Linked DNA regions of Homo sapiens. The protein of the gene in region 3 purifies or fractionates together with the protein of the main gene of each other region. This does not show direct contact. Each region holds a gene or a part of one and is shown on either strand. Other genes may lie near its edges.

The links.
Region 1: the proteins of OXCT1 (region 3) and MDH1 fractionate together in Homo sapiens (co-fractionation; one large-scale study listed by BioGRID). This does not show direct contact.
Region 2: the proteins of OXCT1 (region 3) and TXNRD2 fractionate together in Homo sapiens (co-fractionation; one large-scale study listed by BioGRID). This does not show direct contact.
Region 4: the proteins of OXCT1 (region 3) and AADAT fractionate together in Homo sapiens (co-fractionation; one large-scale study listed by BioGRID). This does not show direct contact.
Region 5: the proteins of OXCT1 (region 3) and KYAT3 fractionate together in Homo sapiens (co-fractionation; one large-scale study listed by BioGRID). This does not show direct contact.
Region 6: the proteins of OXCT1 (region 3) and SGSH fractionate together in Homo sapiens (co-fractionation; one large-scale study listed by BioGRID). This does not show direct contact.
Region 7: the proteins of OXCT1 (region 3) and SPRYD4 purify together in Homo sapiens (co-immunoprecipitation; one large-scale study listed by IntAct). This does not show direct contact.

What each region holds. Positions count from the first base shown.
Region 1 is NC_000002.12:63,602,463-63,605,962, reverse strand, and holds part of MDH1 (malate dehydrogenase, cytoplasmic), read right to left. Parts: intron 1,268-3,500; coding exon 1,091-1,267; intron 684-1,090; coding exon 570-683; intron 25-569; coding exon 1-24. UniProt on the Homo sapiens protein: Catalyzes the reduction of aromatic alpha-keto acids in the presence of NADH. Plays essential roles in the malate-aspartate shuttle and the tricarboxylic acid cycle, important in mitochondrial NADH supply for oxidative phosphorylation.
Region 2 is NC_000022.11:19,910,819-19,914,318, reverse strand, and holds part of TXNRD2 (thioredoxin reductase 2, mitochondrial isoform 5 precursor), read left to right. Parts: intron 1-2,871; coding exon 2,872-2,942; intron 2,943-3,500. UniProt on the Homo sapiens protein: Involved in the control of reactive oxygen species levels and the regulation of mitochondrial redox homeostasis. Maintains thioredoxin in a reduced state. May play a role in redox-regulated cell signaling.
Region 3 is NC_000005.10:41,731,996-41,734,425, reverse strand, and holds part of OXCT1 (succinyl-CoA:3-ketoacid coenzyme A transferase 1, mitochondrial isoform 3 precursor), read left to right. Parts: intron 1-2,430. UniProt on the Homo sapiens protein: Key enzyme for ketone body catabolism.
Region 4 is NC_000004.12:170,083,457-170,086,956, reverse strand, and holds part of AADAT (kynurenine/alpha-aminoadipate aminotransferase, mitochondrial), read left to right. Parts: intron 1-1,963; exon of another isoform or gene 1,964-2,208; coding exon of another isoform or gene 2,209-2,232; intron 2,233-3,500. UniProt on the Homo sapiens protein: Transaminase with broad substrate specificity. Has transaminase activity towards aminoadipate, kynurenine, methionine and glutamate. Shows activity also towards tryptophan, aspartate and hydroxykynurenine.
Region 5 is NC_000001.11:88,947,630-88,951,129, forward strand, and holds part of KYAT3 (kynurenine--oxoglutarate transaminase 3), read right to left. Parts: intron 1,649-3,500; coding exon 1,462-1,648; intron 1-1,461. UniProt on the Homo sapiens protein: Catalyzes the irreversible transamination of the L-tryptophan metabolite L-kynurenine to form kynurenic acid (KA), an intermediate in the tryptophan catabolic pathway which is also a broad spectrum antagonist of the three ionotropic excitatory amino acid receptors among others.
Region 6 is NC_000017.11:80,213,834-80,217,333, forward strand, and holds part of SGSH (N-sulphoglucosamine sulphohydrolase isoform 1 precursor), read right to left. Parts: intron 3,360-3,500; coding exon 3,199-3,359; intron 1,306-3,198; coding exon 1,200-1,305; intron 933-1,199; coding exon 782-932; intron 496-781; coding exon 339-495; intron 53-338; coding exon 1-52. UniProt on the Homo sapiens protein: Catalyzes a step in lysosomal heparan sulfate degradation.
Region 7 is NC_000012.12:56,475,078-56,478,577, forward strand, and holds part of SPRYD4 (SPRY domain-containing protein 4), read left to right. Parts: coding exon of another isoform or gene 1-106; 3' UTR 107-546; coding exon of another isoform or gene 547-605; 3' UTR 606-867; coding exon of another isoform or gene 868-900; 3' UTR 901-2,582; coding exon of another isoform or gene 2,583-2,641; 3' UTR 2,642-2,855; coding exon of another isoform or gene 2,856-3,019; 3' UTR 3,020-3,105; coding exon of another isoform or gene 3,106-3,185; 3' UTR 3,186-3,500. Other genes in the region: GLS2 (glutaminase liver isoform, mitochondrial isoform 1 precursor), read right to left, coding at 1-33, 547-605, 868-900, 2,583-2,641, 2,856-3,019, 3,106-3,185.

The DNA.
Region 1 (3,500 bases), on a different chromosome or scaffold from region 3:
AACACCCATGGACACAAACTCTCCCTGAAAATAACAATGTTTCACATACTCATGATGATTAGTTTACACAACTGACACATGAACTAATAAAATTAAACCAGGTGACCCTTTCTTACTATGTTCATAACATCATTACTGTGTAAGGAACTATCATCAGCACCAGGTACTGGTGACAAGGTAACTTTCATGGATATTATTTCATTCCACGCTTCCATATCATATGTGAAGTAGGCCAGGGAAACCTAATCCTCATTTTACAGATGAGGAAGCTGTGGCATAGAAGAAAAAAATTCACCCCTACTATGTATCAGGCATTGTGCCAGGTGTTTTCCATGTGCAATCTCCTTTAACCCTCACAACCCTGTGTATAATAGTAATGTCATGTAAAAGATGACAAAACAGCTCAGAAAGGTCAAGGCTAACAAACCCCGAAGTTTACTTGTTAATAGGCAGCTGAGCTGAGAAATGAACCTAACCTGACTGACTGCTAAGGCTATATTCTTTTTATATTATATCATCAGGCAACAAAAATAAAATAGAGTGACCTGTGCAAATCACTAAATCCTTACCTCTGGGGTTCCAAACCAGATGTCCCTGACGTGGTCACAGATGGCTTTTGCAGCAGACATGGCACTGGATAGTTTTCGAGCCTTGATGACAGCAGCGCCACGCTGCTGCACAGTCTGGGAAGGGGGCAGGTGAAGGCAGCAGTATTACTTGGTCATGATAGCAAAGTTTTCATTAATTCCAAGTCGACCTTGGGGTGAAAAGCTATGACCAGAGCTTAATGTTTCCCCTCCAAAATCATGCAACAACCCAATGTCAGCCTTACCAATCCTTCTGGAAAAAGGAAACTATGTATCTCCATACAAAGTTTATCATAGGTCAGACAAAGACATGGATCTTGGTATAAATCTCAACTGCTGTCACATCAGATCACACTAGATCATGACTGGCTTACTATGATCCCGAAAGTATGCAGTCATCAGAGCAACTGTGAAAGACCTGCCCTCTTTAAGGTTTTCTGTCCTAAGAGTCTCTCAAGAGTTCTTTACGCTCAGTGTTAAGAAGGCTCACAGATTTTTCTTACCGTGACAAATTCTCCCTTGAGCCAGCTGTCATCTTTCAGAGCTTCATAAACACCAACTTCCTTTCCTTGCAATTTCACCTTGGCATGGTTGACATCTGGATACTGAGTCGAGGAATGGTTTCCCCAGATAATGACATTCTTTACATCATTAGCAGTCACACCAAGTTTAAGAGCAATCTAGTTAAATTGAAAACAAATACATTACTGAGACAAATGGTTTTTATTTCCAATTGGGACCTGTTTTGACAAATGCCCTTAAATAAAGATAAAAAGCTTCTGAAATTTCAAGAGAACACAAGAGTTATATTGACTTGTAAAAAATGTAAATTTATTGCTTGGCAATTTCCTACAACAGCTTAACAGTGGTAACAACTGTGGACTTGAAACCTTATGGAGTAGAATGTTTAAGGGTATGAAGCATCCCATAGTTTGTGGTTAACTTATTAGTACAGTAGGTGTATCAAACATAAAACATTAATCGTTACTATTATTTATCAATTTACTATTTCTTGAATATGTAAATGTGATCTTTTGTTTCACTGTTAATGTTTACTTGGAGATGTCTTCTCAGTGCTTCTGAGTAATCAGGTATTTAGGCACTTTATATTTAGGTAAAATTTTTATTATATACCATATAGAAATTAATTTTCAAATAACCCTAAATATGAAATTTTAGAGTTGGATAGGACTCAAATTACCAAGATATGACTGTCCTCATTTTATATATCAGGAAACTGAAGGAAAGAGGTTTTATATATGTGTATGTGTGTGTGTGTACACACATATATACACTCTAAAATTATAACATATGTAACAATCTCTAGCTATAACTCCAGAAAGCACTTTAGGGTCCTGCAATGCCTTGCAATCACATGTAGTACAGTAGCCACAAAAAAGGTTAGAAAGTTATGTCTTGGGCTGGGCATGGTGGCTTACGCCTGTAATCCCAGCACTTTGGGAGGCCAAGGCGGGCAGATCACCTGAGGTTGACAGTTCGAGACCAGCCTGACCAACATGGAGAAACCCTGTCTCTACTAAAAATACAAAGTTAGCCGGGCTTGGTGGCACATGTCTGTAATCCCAGCTACTTGGGAGGCTGAGGCAGGAGAATCGCTTGAACCTGGGAGGCGGAGGTTGCGGTGAGCCAAGATCGCACCACTGCACTCCAGCATGGGCGATGCAGCGAGACTGTCTCAAAAAAAAAAAAAAAAAAAAAAGAAATGTCTTGGTAGATTTAAATAAAATCAGCCTGCTTGTTATTTGTCTGATAAGTTTATGTGCAGAAAATAAATTATGATCAGGTATATGTATAATTTGTTCCTAACTAGACAACAGAATTTATGATGAACCAGAAGGGAATGTGGAAAAATATTTTAAGAAGCTGATCTGTTTTGGTGACATTGTGGGCAATTCTTCCTTCCTCTGTGTCCCAAAAAGAATGGGAGAAGAAACTAGTTGTGCCAGAGTCTGTAGCTTTAGCACACATAAATAAAGCATTTGAGTATTTACCATGTAAGAAAAGGAATACACTTTGATATTTTAAGGAAAATTTTAAAATAAGGGTAATAACAGCTCCAAACTGAAACAACTCAAATGTCGTTCAAGAATGGTTAAATATGCCAGGCGCGGTGGCTCACACCTATAATCCCAGCACTTTGGGAGGCCGAGGTGGGAGGATCAGGAGGTCGAGATGGAGACCATCATGGCCAACACGGTGAAGCCCCGTCTCTACTAAAAATACAAAAATTAGCTGGGTGTGGCAGCGTGTGCCTGTAATCCCAGCTACTCAGGAGGCTGAGGCAGGAGAATCTCTTGAACCTGGGAGGCGGAGGTTGCAGTGAGCCGAGATCGTGCCATTGCACTCCAGCCTAGGCGACAGGGCGAGACTCTGTCTCAAAAAAAAAAAAAAAAAAAAAAAAAAAAAAAAAAAAAAAAAAAGAACGGTTAAATAAACTGTATTATGTCTTACATAGGCAATGGAATAAATAAAAGGGGTAAGTGGAAAAACAACAAAAAGAAACAAACAACAACCTGGATGGATCTTAAAGGCATTAAACTGAGTGAAAAAGAGCCAGTCTCAAAAGGTTCCTTACTGCATGATTCCACTTTTGTAAATTCTCAAAATGACAAAATTATAGAGGTGGAGTGCAGAAAAATGATGTCAGGGACAGAGGGTGGTGTGACCATAAGGGAGAGTATGAAGGAGTTCTTTTGTGAGTGATGAAGAAATTCTGTACCTTGACTATGGGGGCAGTTACAGGAATCTACACTTGTAATTAAATGTCATAGAATCATTCATAAAGACACAGAAAAAAATAAGTGAATATAAAACTGGTGAAACTTCAGTAAGTCTAGTTAATAGTATTGTGTAGTTCATCAACTTCCTGGTTTTGATAATACTCTGTAGTTA
Region 2 (3,500 bases), on a different chromosome or scaffold from region 3:
AATAGTGCCGCTGTGAACATCTGCAAAGAAGTTTTTTGGTGGACTTCAGTTTTCACTTCTCTTGGGTTACACTTAGGAGCAGAACTGCTGGGTCATGTGGTAACTTTATGTTGAATCTTTCAAGGAACGTTTCAAGGAACCTCAGACTGTTTTCCACAATGACTGTGTTTTACATTCCTTCCAGTGGGGTGTAAGGGTCATGGTTTCTTGTTTCTTCACGTATCTTGTAATTTTTTTATTGAAAGCTGAACATTTCAAATAATTTAATGCGATAACTTTGGAAACCAGATTCTCCCTCTGCCCCAGGATTCTGTTGTTACAGCTGCTTATTTGGTGACTTTTCGGAACTGACTTTGTAGACTCTTATTCTTTGATGTATGTGGCCACTGAAGTCTTTACTTGGTTAGCTTAGTGGTCAGCTAAGAACTGCATGGAGATTTCCCTAAACTAAGAACTCTCCCGGTCTTTGCTGAGGGCTCTGTGTGCGTTTGGAGGGGATGCCTTCCACACTCAACAGGCAGCAGACAGCTCTGCCCTAGCCTTCACTTCCTGCTTCTGCAGAGATCAAGGTCAGCTGGAGGTGAGGGTTCAGGGCCTCGTTGGTCCTTCCTGATGTGTGCACAGTGCTGTGCATGCGCCTGGCCTAGGTTCCCAGGAATATGCTGGAACCTTTCAAAGCTCCAGCAGACATCTCATACTTTGGCTTTTCCTTTGAAGCTTTTTGGGCAGTCTGTTGTTGGCTCTAACTGTTACCTATCCCCTCAGGCAGCTGTGAGAAGAAAACCTCAGACAAATGCCCCCAGAGAAAGGCTTTTAGCCCTGGCTGAGCTCCGGTGAAGTTGGATGAAGATGACCCTATAGTTGCTGACTCTGACTCTTCTTTGTGGGGGGGCTTTGAAAGACCCCAGCTGAGTTCTGCTCTCTCTGACACATCACTGTTCAGGGCTGCCGCTGAGGTGGGAGTGGGACCAGAGTGAGTTAAAACACCCTGGAGTTCCCATTCTCACTCAGCTTCAGCTGTTTTTCCTGACTTTAAATGTTCCCTGTGTTGCTGCAAGCCTGTGGTTAATTTCCATAATTCTGAATCTCCCAGTTCTTGCCAGTTTTATCGCTGTTTTTAACAGAGAGGTGAATAACTCCTGGCCCAGTCTTGTGGGTTGTGGGGGCAGAGTTGAGGAAGGGGCCCCGGGGTGAGGGGTTGGGGGGCAGCTGCAGCAGGGAAAGCAAATGGGCTGGGGGTGAGCAGAGAGGTTTGGCTGAGACCAGTCCCCACGGGTCTCCCAGGGAACCGTGTGCCGCCTGCTCCAAGCCTCTAAGTAGGCTGCAGCCAAGCTCTTGAAGACCACGGCTCTCTCGGCCTGGAGGCCACACCACCTCTGACTTAGACCCAGGGGCAGTCCGGTGGAGGCAGAGCAAGGGGAGGTTCTGCCACTTCTTGGATGTGACCCCAGCCTCCACTTCGTCCTGTGCTTACTGTGGAAACAGGGAAAGGAGCGGCCCCGAGGAGCACAAGCACCCCCAGTCCTTAGAGGCCGTGGGACTTGTCTGGCCGCCAGGCAGCCACAGCAGCCTCTAGAGGGGGCAGGTTGCTTATGCACAGAGGTGGGGCTCAGGGCTGCGTGACTTTGTAGGATGACACTGTGCAGTTGTTCAAGGCAGCTGCTGCAGACAGGGTCCCAGTGATCCCCTCTCCTGGCAGCTGGGCTCATGGTGGTTCTGCTTAAAGAAGGCCACAGCCAGCTTCCAGCAGCCCAGCGGTCATTGGGTTTCTCTGAGGCCCCAGGCAGAGCTGCACGTGCATCCGCACCAGGGAGCACTGCACAGGGGCCCTGGCCTGGCCCGGCCCTGCTCTGCACCTCACGGGCAGCTGCTGACGGCTCTTTGGGCTCACAGGGGATCCAGCAGGCGCTCCTGGTCCTTAGGAGGCAGGCAGCTCAGGGCTGCTTCGCTCTCCCTGCCACGCCCTCCCAGGGTGTCTGCCAAGGCTTGCTTGCGTTTTAGTCCCTTTGATTGCCAGACCTTTCGGTTTTCCTTGAGTAAACCTGAGAAATTCCTGACTTTATTTTTTTTTGCCAGTTGGAAGCATAAACTGTTTGAGATCCGCTTCCTCCACCAGCACATCTTGTTCTCATGGCCGCTAAGGGGACGTTCACCCTGGGCCTCCCACCTGCTTGGCCGCCCCTCTTCAGGTGACCTGTATGATTTCTGGGCTCAGAGCCCACCCGGGCCAGCCCTCGAGAGTGTGAAGTCCGTCCTGGCTTCAGCCAGGTGCCCTCAGAGCTGCCCCTCAGTCCCTGCCCACCTCAGCCTGTGGCACTTACCCCCTGTGCCTCCTCTCCTCTGGCTGGCCTTGTAGGCCACCCCTGCCGCGCAGACACACCTGAGCTCTGCTGGCCCTGATTTGCTGACCTGTTCTCTCCCCACTTCCTCTCTCTGAGTTTGGATCCCCCAGAACCCAGGTGTTGCTCCCTGGGGCTGCATGCCCCTGTCTGTTTGATGTGTCTGTCCAGAACCCGGGCAGACTTGAGGGGTCCCAGCTGTCTGCCTGTATGGCCCCTGCAGTTGCTGTACCCACCTCAGGCCCTGTATCCTGCTCTGAACCAGGGTCAAGGGGAGGGTCCTGGGGAACAGAGGGGAAAGGTACCCTGCGAGGGCACCGGGACCTGGAGTGCAGCAGCTTAGATGCAGACAGGCCACCTGCAGCCCCAAAGAGGCCACAGCCTGCAGACAAGGACTGGCAGCAGGGAAGCCCTGTGCATGTGTGCCCTGGGAAAGCTCTGCTTGATTCTGCAAAGCTGGCATCCTCTTTAAGGAAGCCCTAGGACAGGCCAAATGGAGCTCTTGTCCAAGGGGTCATTTCTGTCTTGACAGATCGAAGGTGCCTTGGAATATGGAATCACAAGTGATGACATCTTCTGGCTGAAGGAATCCCCTGGAAAAACGTAAGGCCTGCGCGTGCTTGGTGGGGTCCTCTTTTTGTTCACCAGAGTGAGCACTGGACCCTTAGAGCCTGTGCTGGTGCTGGGCTCCTGGGGCTTTCTTTCCGGTTTACCCAAAAGAAGGAAAAAAGGCCTGTTATTTGTGGCCAGGTGTGGTGGCTCATGCTTGTTAGCCTAGCACTTTGGGAGACTGAGCGGGAGGATTGCTTGAGGCCAGGAGTTCGAGATCAGCATCAGCCTGGGCAATATAGTGAGACCTCTACTCTACAAAAATCTGTTTTGGTTTTTTTTTTGGCTTTTTTTTTTAGGTGAATTCTCACTCTGTCCCCCAAACTGAATTGCAATGGCCCAATCTTGGCTCACTGCAATCCCTGCCTCCCAGGTTCAAGTGATTCTCCTGCTTCAGCCTCCAAAGTAGCTGAAATTACAGGCGCCCACCACCACATCTGGCTAATTTTTGTATTTTTAGTAGAAATGGGGTTTCACCATCTTGGTCAGGCTGGTCTTGAACTCCTGACCTCAGGTGATCCGCCCACCTCGTCCTCCTAAAGTGCTGGGATT
Region 3 (2,430 bases):
TGGGTTGTTTCTTTTCTGATGAATGCTTAAGCTATGTAAAATAGGTGTTTTTATAAACCATATGTCTGTGGACCTCTTTTGAAACAATATTTCTTTGATTTTATCTTCTTAACTTAAAAAATTAAAAATGTATTCCATATTTAAACATTATGTGTTAGAATAAACTTCCAGATGTCACTAGTCATACACCCAATGTATGTTCCATATTGAGCTGTAAAATATGAATAAAATAGAACCAATTTATGGTTCTTGCTCCCAAGAGCCTTGGCTTTATTCTCCAGGCAGGAATATACCTAAACCACCAGTGGCAAAACAAACAAACAAATAAAAAACTAGTAAAAGCAATGTTTGTTGATATGTTTGCAGTGGAATCTGAAAGAAGCTGCAGACATTCCTTGCCTAATTGAATAAATTTATACTCTCAGTATCTACTATGAACTGGCATTCTACCAGAGTCAAGCAATATACTTTTGGGATATTAATGCACTGGGAAGACAAATCATTGGCTTGTCTTCTATAGCTAAATCATGTCACCTTGTGCTTAGCCTGCAGATCACGTTGGCAGAATAAGCTCCTTTGGCTTGCATGAATTTACAACGTTGATGAGACTGGGAGAACAGAATGAGAAATGGTGGTTTAGTAGATGTTTTTCATTAAAAAGCAGGCAAAGTCAGTCTATATAAAGCGTTATCTTATTTTTGATGTCATTTTTCACATTGAGAATGTAAATGACATTAAGAGCTCAAAATAGGGCTGACATGACAAGGAAAAGGATCAGATGTTTAGTTAAAAAAATTAATGTGTCCAGTTTCTTTTTAAAGGAAGTGCTATGAAGCATCTATAGAAAATGATTTGTAGTAAAAAAGTTTCACTAAATTGGGCCAGGCACGGTGGCTTACGCCTGTAATCCCAGCACTTTGGGAGGCTGAGGCAGGTGGATCACCTGAGGTCGGGAGTTCAAGACCAGCCTTACCAACATGGAGAAACCCCGTCTCTACTAAATATACAAAAATTAGCTGGTCATGGTGGCACATGCCTGTAATCCCAGCTACTTGGGAGGCTAAGGCAGGAGAATCGCTTGAACCCAGGAGGCGGAGGTTGCGGTGAGCCAAGATCGCGCCATTGCACTCCAGCCTGGGCAACAAGAGCAAAACTCCGTCTCAAAAAAAAAAAAAAAAAAAGTTTCACTAAATTATTTCCACAGATGCTCTGTTGTTTAAAAAAAAGAAAGAAAATGAACTGTGAGATATACTTATCTAAATACTAAATGTTATTATTAGTAGAGTTGAAAATCTGTGCGTATGTGTGATGTTACTTTTTGTCTACTTATTCTGTTTATTTTGTCTGTATGTCTACTCTTAGAAATAAGTCATAATGCGTTCTCATTTACCATAAGCTATATACCAAATCATGCTGAACTTTATTATTATTGTTTATTCTTATTTATTCTTTTAGTAGACATTTTTGCCATTCTGGTTTAATATTTTAGTACAAAAATGGAAGACAAGACATTAACTCTTGATACTATGAAGAGTTAATTGTGAAGAGCTAATGCAGACATTTATAAATGAACTAAAACTATTTAACCTTATGAAAGCCAAATGACTGCCTGTTCTTTCAGTTTTTAATACTGATGATTTAACCTCTATTAGGAACCTCCCTTCTAGTTCTTTGAAACTTATATAATTATCTACTTATTCATTCATTTGTTCATTTATCAATTTAAGAAAATATTGTTTATTCTGGAAGGTAAAATGCTAATTGGGCTCATTTTGATTGCCACATCTTTCAGAATTTCAAAAAGCACCCAATTTTTGGTATTTCCTGCTTCCCATGGGGACTGTTACTAACTAGAACCCAATCAATATTTGCCATGTTGAATTAAGGAATCTGAACCTGGTACCACACTTTGAAAAATCTGTCTCAGTTAAACTGACCACTTATATTTATGGTTCTCCTGCAACCGGCTCTACCTTAAATATACATTCATTGTCACTTTTCTCTGCTTGCAGATTCGCAGGAAAGCATTGACTGTTTTATACACTGAACATAATTATAATCAACATTTAATTGTTTTAATGCTATTACTTCCATATTTTAATAACTTGGAATCCTCTTATTGCCTTTGTATCATTTCTATTCTGATTATGAAATTTCCGATAAGATTTATCATTGATCATACGTCTCTTCATTAATATGTATTTAGGTAATCCAAAGATTACATAAAGCATCTTTCAACAAAATTATGAATTGGCTGGATCTATTTTGAGGTTTTGGAGACTTGGGGTTTGTACTGCGTCTTAAGTGAAGTCTCAGAGGCATCAGTCTCGGAGATCAGTGATCCATCTGACAGGGGGCTTGGTTATTGGGATCCTTTGTTTTCCTCTGCTCCTCTTCCACCTGCTCCTTGTTGCCAGCCTTGTTCATCCT
Region 4 (3,500 bases), on a different chromosome or scaffold from region 3:
AGGATGGGGGTGGGAGCAGTTGTGGCCGGGGATGGGCAAGGGTGGGTAGGGGGTGTTGACTGTAAGCAAAAGCCAGGTGGAAATATTGTAGGTTGATCTATCAATATTTCCCCCTAGTTTTCCTCATTGTGAACACAAGGACTTTGAAAAATTACCTGCTCTTAACATCATTCACTAGCCTAATCTTTCTTAAATATTAAATACAGAGCATGTGGTCAATTACCCAGACCTATTAACCATTAAAGCAGGATGCCCACTAAGGGAGTACTCAACTCCTACCAAAAGCTTAGTGAACACTGCTTAATTTCATCTGGCTCAAAAATTCAAGTTACGTTTGATTTCCGCCTATAGTTAGGAAATTTCAATACAATTTTTAAATTTTTTAGAGGGCATGCTTTCATATTCCTGAGATACACATATTTATATTCTTTTACATATCTGTCTGTAGAATCTCTCCTTGCCACTGCTTGTATCTTGTCCCCCTCTTGGGTGTATTTCTCTAGATCTATTTATATGTCTGTATTTCTGACTTCTTATATGGATTGGTTCTCTCTCCCTCTCCCCCTGGCATTAGTTATTCCATCTTCTTCCCTTCTGGGTTCCGGGAACTCCACAGATGTAAACACCACTGGTTAGTTGCCACAATAAAGAGACCACATCTGTGGTCCTCAGTTTGATCTGTTATTTTCTTTTCTTTCTTTTTTTTTTTTTGAGACAGGGTCTCACCCTGTCACCCAGACTGGAGTGCGGTGGCGCAATCACGGCTCCCTGCAGTCTCGACCTCCCTGGGCTCCAACAATTCTTCCACCTTAGCCTCCCAGGTAGCTGGGACTGCGGGTGCACACCAATATGCCTAGCTAATTTTTATATTCCTTTGCCATGTTGGACAGGCTGGTCTTGAGCTCATGGGCTCAAGCAGTCTGTCCACCTTGGCCTCCCAAAGTGCTGGTATATTTTCTCCTTTGTTTTCCATGAATAATAAGATTCTCTATATTCATTCTCAGATCTAAATTAATCTATGACTCCCATTTATCTTTATCTTAAACCAGAGTAGTTTTCTTTTTCATGGAAATATGAAAACTGTAATCTGGTTTGCTTTAATGAATTTTAATTAAATTATTGTTACAGAATAATGGGTTACAGTAGTAAAAACATTTTTTAAAGTTTTTAAAAATTAAAAAAACTTACCCTTTTTGTATTTAATTAGGAAAAGTAAAAGAATTAGCTAGTGTTTGAGTCTTTGCTTGAAGAGAAACATTTGTGATTGTATAGAATGATATAAGAGTATTTTTTAATGAAATAAATTCTTTCCTCAAGAAAGGATACTATGGACTTTTTCTTCCAGAAAGTTGCTCAAGACAGTTTCTTCTTTATCCATCACAACACCAGTTACACAAAAAAGGAAGATAGCATAGATTGCTAAATACGTCAATAACTTACTACTTACAGACATGCTTATTATAGGGGCACTAATATGTATCTGGTTTAATATTTCTTCCACTTTGTTCTCCAGGAGTCATGTTATTTTAGACTCCTGTGTTTCTCTCTCATCTTTTAAACAGTGCTCCCAGATGATAAACAGCCTTCCCTTCTAATTTAGGATATTTGAAATTTGTATGTCCCCTAACTGATATGAAAAATATATTTACAGTTGACCCTTGAACAACGCAGGGGTTTAAGGGCAATGACTCCATGCAGTTGAAAATCTGCATATAACTTTTGACTCCTCCAAAACATAACTACCAATAGGCTACTCTTGACCAGAAGCCTTACTGATAATATAGTCAATTAACACATATTTTATATTTTATATGTATTGTACACTATATTTTTACAATAAAGTAAACTAGAGAAAATAAAATGGTATTAGAAAGTCATGAGCAAGAGAAAATATATTTACCATTAAGTGGAAGTGGATCATCATATAGGTCTTCATCCTCATCTTCATGTTGCTTAGGCTGAGGAGAAGGAGGAAGAGGAGGGGTTGGTCTTGCTGTCTCACGGGAGGCAGAGGCAGAAGAAACTGTGCGTGTAAGTGAACCTGTGCAGTTCAAATCTATGTTGTTCAAGGATCAACGCTAATTAGGTTTTCATTTGATCTGTTGATATGTACGTGCTGCCACCCAAGTGATTCCTTTGGTCCTAGGATGTCTTGTAAAGCTTAAGTCAATTAGAAACTTTTCGGAGGAGGATACTGTTTGTCATAAGATGCCAAAAGCTCATAAGGAAAAGGTAAATTCAACATCACAGGTCAGTTGGGGAACAAAAGTCAAATCTTCTATCTCAATTGATAATGGCCCTACTGTTTGTGGTGAGATGTGGGTTGTTAAAGTGATAGGAAAAAGGACTCAAACTGGGGATTGTGAAACATCACAAGTTAAGAAGCAATTATTCTGTGACTTATGTATGATTTAGTCATAATAGACCCCTTTGATTTAGGCTGGAAAAATCTATTGCCTGGCTCTAGTGATTGTAGTAGAAATCATATTATCCACATAATTTACAAAGATTGTCAAACCTTTTATTACTTGACCTAGAAATATTCTTTAACTCCGTTGATCTCCCCATCCATTTTATTTTAAAAAATTAATTTTTAATTTTTTCTGTTGCCATAAAATACACATATAAGATTTGCTATCCTTGCCATTTTTAAGTATACAGTTCAGTGGTAATAAGTACATTTATATTCTTTATTTTTCCTTCACCCTATCTCCCTCCTGTCCTTTCCAGCCTCTGGTAACCACCAATCTACTCTCTATCCTTATGAGATCCACTTTTTTAGCTCCCACAGATGAGGGAGAACATGCAATATTTGTGTTTCTATACTTGGCTTATTTCACTTAACATAATGACCTCCATTTCTATCCATGTTGCTGCAAATGACAGGATTTTATTCCTTTTTTATGGTTGAATAATATTCCATTGTGTGTATACCACATTTTCCTTATCCATTCATCAGCTGATGGACACTTAGGTTGGTTCCATATTTTGGCTATTGTGAATAAGTGCCATAATAAACATGGAGGTGCAGATACTTCTTTGATATATTGATGTTTTTGTTTTGGATATATACTCAGCAGTGGAATTGCAGGATTATATGGTAGTTCTATTTTCAGTTTTTTGAGGAACCTCTGTACTGTTCTCCATAGTGGCTGTACCAATTTACATTTCCATTAAAGTGTATAAAGGTTCCCCTTTCTCTACCCTCATCAGCATCTGTTATCACTTGTCGTTTTGAAACTAGCCATTTTGAATATGGTTAGGTAATATCTCATTGTGGTTTTGAGGTTTTTCTGATTGCATTGGTAATATTGAACTTTTTTAATGCCTTTTGGCCGTTTTTATGTCTTCTTTTAGAAATGTCTGTTAAGATCTTTTGCCCAATTTTTAATGGGATTATTTGGGGGTTTTGCTATTGACTTGTTAATCCCTTGTCAGATGGGTAGTTCGCAAATATTTTCTCCTCTCCTGTAGGTTGTTCTAGTTCCTTGAAGTGCATT
Region 5 (3,500 bases), on a different chromosome or scaffold from region 3:
GACCTCCCCTGGAGCCCCATCAGGGAACAGCTAGAGTTTACAGCCACTTTCCAGAGAGACAGACCTGAAGACCAAATTATAGGAAAATCATAACACCTTACTTTTCTGAAATTTGCTAAGATGATAATGAACTATTACAAGTAAAAATTGCTAGCATCAAATGCTTATAGTAAGAAAGAACTCAGCCAGTGGCTCATGCCTGTAATCCCAGCACTTTGGGAGGCTGAGGCAGGTGGATCACTCATTAAGCTCAGGAATTCATGACCAGCCTGGGAAATGTGGCAAAACCTCGTCTCTAAAAAAAATTTAAAAATTAGCTAGGTGTGGTGGTGCATGCCTGTGGTCCCAGCTACTCAGGAGACTCAGGTGGCAGGATGGCTTGAGCCCAGGAGGCAGAGGTTGCAGTGAGCTGAGATCACGCCACTGCACTCCAGCCTGGGTGACAGGGCCAGACCCTGCCTCAAACAAAACAAAACAAAACAAAACAAAACAAAACAAAACAAAACAAAACAAACTCCTATGTGAAGGATGTAAAGTTAAAAAATATGATCAATGTTTTGCTATAAAATTGAAAATTTCCTTTACTCTTTCCAGCTTTATACAATTTAGTATAAATAAAACACTTCAGTTTTTCAAGTTCATTGGCATATAACTTCATTGTAATAAAATTTTAAAACATTTAAAACTATATTTAGAATGGCTGTAATTTCTGTCATGATAAATTAGGCTTCAAGGTTTACTATTACTAATTTTTTTAAAAGAAAAGTTATATATGACACATTATCATGCTTCTAACTTTAGATTTGTATGGCATGTCAGAATTACATATAACAGCTTTAGGTAATATAAAAAACAATGCTTTTTGGAAACAGAACTATTTAGAATCTAGCTGTGTGACTTCAGGGAAGCTATTTAAAACTTTCTAAATCTTTTTACCTGCAAAAATGGAGCTAATGTTTTCTTCAAAAGGGTGTTTTGAGTACGTGGCACAAAGTAGACCCTCAATAAGTGTTATTCTCCCATTTATTTTATTTCAGTACATTCTAAAATGGCAAATATTCCCTGATAGCTTCAAAATTTCTAGATATTTTTCTAATGAAATAGTACATTTTGTTAAGTAAAAAGGAAACTACAATTTTACTCAAATGAACACTGAGTATATAATATTATTTCACACACTTGTGTTTTAAAATTACACACCAGAAGAGAGTGATAGCAAATCCTATGTTTAATAGACTAACTAGAACAACACTGACTCCATAACCATTTAACAATGGTCACATTTAAGGTAAAAGGCCTAAAAGTAAAGATAATTATAGAAAATGTAGACATTGCAAAAATCCATCCTTCTCCACAGATAAAATGCTGCTGTGGCTTTGACACCAATCTTTTCTCCATAATTCTGATATAATTTCACACATAAGTTTCCGTATAGTTGAAATAATAAAAGCCTTTACAAACCTAGCAAAGACACATCAGCGATGATGAAGTATCCTCCATCAGGAACTATGGGTTTTAGGCCAACACTTTCAAGTAAACGTACCATCCGATCTCTTTTTACTTCTAACTCTTTTGGCAAAGAATTAAAGTAACATTCTGGGTCATCCATGCGCTTGATGTCAATCCAGAAAGCTTGAGCCAAGGCTTCCTGTTTGTTAAGAATCAAAAAATATGAAAAGGCATATGGCAATGTTATTTATTGCTTAGTTTATTGGTATAATAAATAGAGATGATCTGAGTAAAATTATTGGCAAAGAAGTCACTCAGGAAATAACAGTTGAATTCCTGTGAACCTATATTAAACTCTATAGGTTAATGGAGGAATCAGTTATACCTAAATGATTAAATCTCATGTGAAGAACTGAGAAGGAGTCCTGAAAATTCAAATTGAAAAAGAGCTGTTACTTAAAGGTGGCTTGCTTGGAAACAAAAAGACATTAAGATATTTTCTGCTGAGGTGAGTTGTAGAATGACTTGCTAAATCTAAGTCAGAAGAACAACCAGAGAGTAGTCAGCCTCTCACCATTACATTTGGGGACAGAGTGGAAATGAAAGCTCACCTACTGTGCAAAGGAGAAATGTGCCTTTCTTATTCTCCATAGGTGTGGAAATCCTTGCTGGAATTATTCATATGCCAGGAAGTTGGTCAAAGTGTAAGAGGGACTAGAAATGAGTTTCTGGAACATCTACAGTAATTCCTCTATCTTTCTTCAAGAGCCAGGACAGCAAACTGGGCCAAGGAAAAAGCCAATGTTGTTAAGTATAGTGGACTGAATGTTTGTGCCCACTCTCATATTCATATATTAAAATAGTAAACCCCAAGGTGATGGTATTAGGAGGTGGGGCCTTTAGGAAGTGATTAGGACAGAAGGGTAGAGCCCTCAGGAACAGGATTAGTGCCCTTACAAAGGAGGGTTAGCTTGCTCCTTCCACCATGTAAGGACACAGCAAAAGGCACCATCCGTGAAGAAGCATGTCCCCACCAGACACCAAATCTGCTGGTGCCTTATCTTGGACTTTGCTGCCTCCAGAACAGTGAGAAATAAATTTCTGTTGTTTATAAGCCACCCAGTCCAACTAAGACATTAAGGACCAGGCAGGTAAGAGAGACTGTGTGGCAAGAGATGAGACTGGAGACAGAGAGGGGCAAGATCACAGAGATTTTATGCCAAAAGAATGCAGTAAAACAGAATTAGTAATAAATCTCCAGTACTACAAAATCTTGGAAAATAAGGATCGATTGCCTTAGCCTGGAAATCTGTGGTTTCCTGGAACCAAACATGGTTGTCCCAGGACAAAACAGAGCACCTAGCTGAAATGGAGAATAAGAGTGTTCAGAAAAAGATGTTCTGCATTCTTAGCTATATCTTTTTTTTTTTTTCTCTTGGCAACTTGTTCATTTACTATAGGAGATACTGCCTTAGAAAATTCCAAGTATAAGGAGACATAAACATCCATCCTAACTACAGCATTATCCTGGACTCCTTTCTTTTTCACATATCCCATATGTAACCTATTGACAAATAATGTTGGCTCTACTTTCAAAATATATTCAGAGTCCAATCACTTTTTACTGCTTCTACCACCCCCATCTTTGTTCAATGCACTGGCATTTCTCTCTTGGATCACTGTAACAGCTTTCTCACTCAATGAGGCAGTCAGAGTCCATTTGCTAACACAAGCCAGACCAAGTCACTCCTGAGTTCAAAACTCTCTAGTGACTTCCTATCTCACTCAGTCCTTACAGTGACATGCATGCCCCAGCTCCATTGGACTCCCAGCTACCTCTCTGATCTTAGCTTTTCCTACTCTTCTCTCAATCATTCCATTCCAGTCTCTGTGCTGTTCTCTGATATTAACATGCCAGCCAGGCTGTCTACCACTGGGCCTTTCCGCTTGTTCTCTCTGTCCAAAGGGGTTTTTCTCTAGGTAACCATGTGGCTGCTTAATCCCCTTCAGTTAGTTGTTCAAATGTTACCTTATCAGGGAGGCTTTCAAAG
Region 6 (3,500 bases), on a different chromosome or scaffold from region 3:
GAGCGGCCAGGTCGGCTCGGGCTGCCGGGGTGTTGGGGACGAAGTAAGGCACCTGGGGCAGGCGGTGGGGAGCCAGGCTTAGAACAGACAGACCGGGGGAGCGGTGTCCAGCCTTCTCCCCGGGGCCTCCTGCAAATGGGTTAGCCCAGAACAGCCTCACTCCGGACCACCCCGTCTCTCTACGGTTCTCTCTGTGGCCCCGAGGTTGGGAACCTGAATCCGATTTGGTCAGAGCCTCTTTCTTCATCATCTAGGGCCAGGGCTGCAAGCTCGTAGGAGGCCAGGGTCCCCGACCCAGGGCTGACGGGCGTCCTGAAACACAGGAGGGGCCGTCCTACCAGCACGTCCAGTGGGTCGTAGGCCTGGGGGGTCCAGTCTGGGATACGACCCATGCCGCTCTCTCCGTTGCCAAACTTCTCACAGAAGGTTCCGTACTGGGGCTGGGAGTGCCCACAGCGGTGGGGGTCGTGGAAGGCGACGTAGAGGAAGAAAGGCCTGCACGGGAGGAGGCTCATTGCCAAGGCTGCGGGGCCACTGCCACGTGGCACAGGAAGCCCCTCGGCTCTGCCTCCTCCTCTGTATCTGGAAGTCAACCTGTGACCCTCACTGCCTCAGTTTCCCCACGTCCCTTCTCCCTCTGACCAGGCTAACTCGAGTACCTGGAACCTTCTCCCCTGCCCCCATTCGAGCCACGTGGGGGCCCATGCATCCCGCCGGAAGACTCCGGGCTGTGCTCTGGTACCGGCCGCCAGGGGGAAGGGGCAGGGGCCCCGACTCATACCGGTCATCCTGAGTCTGCAGGAATTTCCGGACGAGCAGCTTAATTCTAGTGATGTTCCGCCCCACCTGGAGGACGGAGCCATTCTCCTCCGTGTACGCAAAGTCAAACGGGTACACGGTCTCCGGCCCCACGTGCTTCTTCCCGATGATGCCTGGGCGGGAAGAGAGGCCTGGCCAGAGTCCCTTCAGCCTCCCAACCCTTTCTGCTCCCTTCTCTGCCCCTCTCGGCCCTAAGCGCACTGTGGGTTCTCGTGGACACACAGCCCAGCCAGGAGACCCAGGCCCAGATCCTTTGGGACAAGAGCTAAGGGCAGGCCACGGGGGCTGAGCGTGCCTTGGTACAAGGTGCCGAACCTCCTGGGCTCTGGCCTGGCCTCTGTGCCTCACCCCACGCCCTGTCCTCGGCACGGGGTCCTCACCTGTGCGCACACCAGCTTGGCTGAGCAGCAGCGGCAGGCTCCGCACCTTGTCGAAGGAGTTGAAGTGGTGCACGTCCTGGTGCAGCCCGTACATCCCATTCTGATGCTGCCAGCAAAGGCGCATGAGGTCCGGGGCCCCCGGACAGCCAGAGCCCGCCTGCCGCACCTGTTCTCCCACGGCCCTCCCATCCCCAGGGGCCTTCTCGGGGCCCTGATTTAGACTTCGAGTGGCCAGCACCCAGAGACACTGGCTGTACCTCCCACTCCCTGCCCGATAGGCCCATGGGTCCCTCCCGTGAAAGGAGGACTTCGCCAGAAAGAAGGGGACCTGCAGGGCGTGCACCGACACGAGGGTGGCCTTGATGTTCTTTTTGCGTATCCGTACTTTTGAACTCTTCTGTTATGATCACACGTTACAGAGTGAAAAAGACAGGGTCAGGCCTTGTTTTATTACCTAGTTATTTTATATTGTAAAAGATGTGTACATTTTAAAAACTCAGACTGCCGGCCGGGCGTGGTGGCTCACGCCTGTAATCCCGGCACTTTGGGAGGCCAACGCAGGTGGATCACGAGGTCAGGAGATGGAGACCAGCCTGGCCAACATGGTGAAACCTCGTCTCTACTAAAAATACAAAAATTAGCTGGGCGTGGTGGCGGGCGCCTGTAGTCCCAGCTACTCGGGAGGCCGAGGTAGGAGAATGGCTTGAATCTGGGAGGTGGAGGTTGCAGTGAGCCGAGATCACACCACTGCACTCCAGCCTGGGCAACAGAGTGAGACTAAAAGAACAAGTGTCCTTAAACACCCATGTTCATAGCAGCTTTATTCACAACAGCCAAAGGGTAGCAGCAACCCAAGTGCCCACTGACGGATGAATATGGAGAAGCAAAATACGGGGCCCATCCATCCACTGGAATATGAGTCAGCCCTGAAGAGGAGGGAAGTTCTGACTCGTGCTACAGCATATGGTTAACCCTGAGGACATTGTGCTGAGTGAAGTAAGGACACAAAAGGGGGGCCGGGCTCGGTGGCTCACGCCTGTAATCCCAGCACTTTGGGAGGTCGAGGCGGGCAGATCACTTGAGGCCAGGAGTTCGAAACCAGCCTGACCAACATGATGAAACCCCATCTCTACTAAAAATACAAAAATTAGACAGGCGTGGTGGCGCGCACCTGTAATCCCAGCTACTCGGGAGGCTGAGGCAGGAGACTCGCTGGAACCGGGGAGGCAGAGGCTGCAGTGAGCCACGATCGCACCACAGCACTCCAGCCTGGGTGACAGAGTGAGACTCCAACTCAAAAAAAAAAAGGACTAGTCCTGTGTGATTCCACTCTTATGTGGCCCCTGGAGCAGTCAGATTCATAGAGACAGGGGATGGGGAGGGAGAATGTGGAGCTGGTGTTTCATGGGACAGAGCTTCTGTTTGGGTAGATGGAAAAGTTCTGGAGATGGATGGTGGTGATGGCTGCATAACACTGTGAATGCACTTAATGCCCCGGAACTGTGCGCTGAAAAATGGCTAAGATGGGAATGTTGATGTTTGTGCATTTTACCACAGTAAAATAGGAGCATGTGTGCCTTAACGGTGTCCGCTCCCTGCACCATGGCGTTCCTGGGACACTGTGGCCATGGCGGTTCACGCTGAGTGAGCCCACCAGGCCTCGCACTAAGTGTTTACATACAAAGCATTAGCCCCGCCAATCTCCATAACTAGAGTGGCATCTCATTACACCCACCATCTTACAGATGAGGAAACTGAGGCACAAGGAGGTAGGTGACTTGCTCAAGGCCACACACAGCAGTGCAGCCAGGGCTGGCGGGTGAGTCGGAGCCCCTAGTCTGCACTCACAGCCATAGGCTGTGCCTCCTCCTGGAGGTGGGAGGGAAAGTGGGCAACACCCCCCGGGATCCCAGGGATGGGAGACGTGGCAGAGGCCTGGGCCCCGGACGCAGCCTGTCTACTCCCTGCCCACCCCCTCCTCCCGCCCCTTGCACCTCACCTGGGGCAGGCCAGTGAGGAGGCTGGCGCGGCTGGGAGAGCAGCTGCTGACCGAGGTGAAGGCATTGCGAAAGAGGAGGCTGCGGCGGGCCAAGGCGTCCAGGTGCGGGGTGGCGATGGCGCTGTTGTTGTACGCGCCACTCTCAAAGCCTCCGTCATCCGCTGCGTGAGGTGGGAGACAGAGAGTGCACGGTCGGCTGCGGTCACGAGAAACAGCACTGGGAGTGAGGGAGGCTGGGACTGTGATGCCAGAAGGCGAGACACCCAGGTGGGCATGGTACTGGCTCAGTGTGAACACTCAGC
Region 7 (3,500 bases), on a different chromosome or scaffold from region 3:
TTCCGATCCCCTGTTTCCTTCTCTGACTGGAATCTGAAGCAAACACCCAATTTAGTACTTGAAGTTGGAGGAGTGGGTGTTGGGAGAAGGGGAAAAATTACCTTCCCTGGAGAGACAGAACTACATCACACCACAAACTAAATGAACCCCTTTATAACTTCTCACAGTAATATTAGAGGAAATTTCTGAACCTGAGCAAACACTCAGCATAGTTTTGTTATAAAGTAAACCCAAACCAAACACCCCAAACTGTCTAGTCATCTAGGAAAACTGGTGAAGTTTTTGGCTTTGAAAGTCTTGGCAAGAAAGGGCTTAGGCACAAACCATCACACTGCCTCTCTCATTATGTACTAATTAGAAATGGAACAAATTATTTTACAAGATAAACAAATGTTTATGAAGGGACTCAGAGGAAGCTGGAGGGCCAAAGTTCCCCTGGGATTTCTTCCTCCTAAGATTCTCTCTCCCCCATTCCTCTTGTCCCCATCCTAAGTACACACACATACACCACAATGCTTTCAGTCAGTCCTCTGAGTAGGGACTTACGTGGCATTGCTGAAACCCATGTATTCATTCCCAGCCATTTTGTTGAGATACTGCAACACCTGGAAGAGAAAAAGGGACATTGAGGCTCCACTTGGTTAAGAAGCTCTATTAATACCTCACAGGTTGACTAGCCCTTCTGAACTCAGGTCTTGTCAAGAGGCTTTCCTCTCTGAGGCCAGCAGATTTCCACATTTCTGGAAATAAGGCTTCTAGTATGGGCTGGTGCACCTGGTAGTGGGGTTAGAGAGCCACTGGGGCAGCTGGAGAGGACAGCATGCCATGGCGAAATGCAGCCAGGGGCTAAGTAGCAAGGGAACTTACAAAATCAAACTTCTCTGCTTTGTTACAGTCCATCTGCAGAGAAAGAGAGAGATGTCAGCATTCTAAGTGTAGGAGGATGACAGAGGGAAGGGTCAGAAGGATCTAGTGGAGTTCTAGTGTTAGTCTGGTCCTGCTGCTGCAAATGTGTTCAATTTTATAATGGCCCTTTTTTTATCCTTCTGAAAACACCGCACTTCCATTGGCTCCTCTCTTTCTCTTTCTTTTTTTTGAGACAGTCTTGCTTTGTCACCCTTGTCACCCAGGCTGGAGTGCAGTGGCACGATCATGGCTCACTGCAGCTTTGACCTCCCAGGCTCAAGCGATCCTCCCACTTCAGCCTCCAAGTAGCTCGGATTACAGGCATGAGCCAGCTTGCTGGGCCATCCCACTTCCATTCTCAATCCAAACCCTCATCCCTGACTCCCACGTTCATTTTCCTGACTCGAATCCTGTCTCCTAGCCCCACCCTATCCCTGATCTCCATCCCCATTCCTTACACCCCATGCTGGAGCTTTACTCCATCCCATTGGCCAGCATGATGGTTCATGCCTGTAATCTCAGCAATTTGGGGGGCTGAGGCAGGAGGATCGCTTGAGACCAGGGGTTTGAGACCAGCCTAGGCAACATAGGAGAGACCCTGCCTCAATTTTTTTTTTTTTTTTTTTTTGAGATGGAGTCTTGCTCTGTCGCCCAGGCTGGAGTGCAGTGGCAGGATCTCGGCTCAACTGCAAGCTCCGCCTCCCGGGTTCATACCATTCTCCTGCCTTAGCCTCCCGAGCAGCTGGGACCACAGGTGCCCACCACCAAGCCTGGCTAATTTTTTGTATTTTTAGTAGAGACGGGGTTTCACCGTGCTAGCCAGGATGGTCTCGATCTCCTGACCTCGTGATTTGCCCACCTCGGCCTCCCAAAGTGTTGGGATTACAGGCGTGAGCCACCGCGCCTGGCCTCTATATTTTTTAAAAAAGGTCCTACTTAGATGGGAATGGGATGAGGCAGGTCCCAGATACAGGTTTGTAGATGGAGCCATCACAGAACAAGGGGAGAGACTCAGCCTCTTTTCCTCACCCAGACTCATTGCTTACTCATGTGTCAACTACAGAGTCAATACCACAGGGACTCTGATACCTGAGTCCCTGAGGGGAGGATTCCTAACACCACCTTCCCCAGGAGGGGCTGTGATTGGCTCCAGGGTGTTGCTGCCCAGCTGCTCCCAGGTTCTTGCTCAAGCCCTGGGAGACCTACAGCTGATGGGCTAGTCTGACACCCTGTTCAAGGCCAACTCACAGTTCCAGGTGACGTGAATAACTGCCCTGGCCTGGCCATTCACCCTTGCCTGCAGGTGTCCCACACCCAGAAGTGGCCAATCAGTGCCCAATAGTGCTGTCCTCCCCTTGTCTCTGGCATTTGGCCCTTGGTCCTAGGCAGGGGTCAGGACCTGCTCACTTCTCTAAGGGTCAGAAAGCTCTAGGCTCTAGACTCATGGGTGGGGGCAGGGAACAGTACTGAGTGGGGATGACGGAGGTGGTGCAGTCTCTTATACTGACATTGTCAGCATAACATGTGGGTCCCTGCTGTGCCTCATGTGCCTTCTGGGGACCCTCAAAGGAATCAGAGCCCCACCAGTCTCCCTGGAGAGCTGAACAAATATGAGGGATACAGGAACACAGGAGCTTAGAGGATAATACCTATCAGAAGGTTAAGGTGGCACTGACCTTGATCAGGGAGCTGACAACAATGGCACCAGCATTGACCATGGGGTTATGGGGGATTCCTGGGGAAATACAAACCACCAAGAGTCTTAGCCACTGAACAAAGCCTCCCTGACAGCCCGCTCACTTTGTGGGTTAGACAAGAAAGACTGCTAGGGAGAAAGGCATGACAGGGCTAATCAGGAAGGGCAGAGAAACAAAAAAGGCTGGGAGATGGGGTGGGGATAAGGAGAAGGGGACAGCTGTAAGTACGGTCTGAGCCTTGGTAGTGCTCACCTTCCTCATTGAGGGAGAGCTTGTTGTAGCGCAGGCCACTTGGCTCTTTGCCCACAAACTTGTGCACGTAGTCAGTGCCTAGGGTGCTTATGGAGATGGCATAGGTGAGGGGCTTCACACAGGACTGCAGGCAGAAGGGGATCTTTGTGTGGCCCACAGAGTGCCTGGAGGCAGACAGATGCCATGAAAGGGGTTGGCCTGTGTTCGGCACCTGTGCCCTGCCTCCCCTTCCTCTTGCCCAGCATCTCACCGTTGACCATCCACAGTGCACAGGGAGACACCCCACAGGTCTGGGTTTGACTTGGCCAGCTGAGGGATGTAGGCTGCCACCTGGACATGAGTGGGTAGAGAAAAGGGAGATGGATGTGGAGAAGAGGAACAGAGTTGAGGTTGAGGGTCAAGAGAATCTTTTAGATAAAAGCTAAAATTCTGTCTTCTATAGGGCAGAGGGGTTCCCTCCTGCCTGTTGCTCCCAGAAATGCCCGAGCCTTAAGTCCTAGAAGGCCATATCTTTGTGTATCCGCAATCCTGTAGAGATAGCAGTAAAGCCAATGGAAGTTAAAAAAGGAGAATTCTGAGGCAACCTTCCCCTTTTGGTTCTTAGGCTCAGTTACCCTATAAATCCCTTTGAAGGCTCTATTCGAT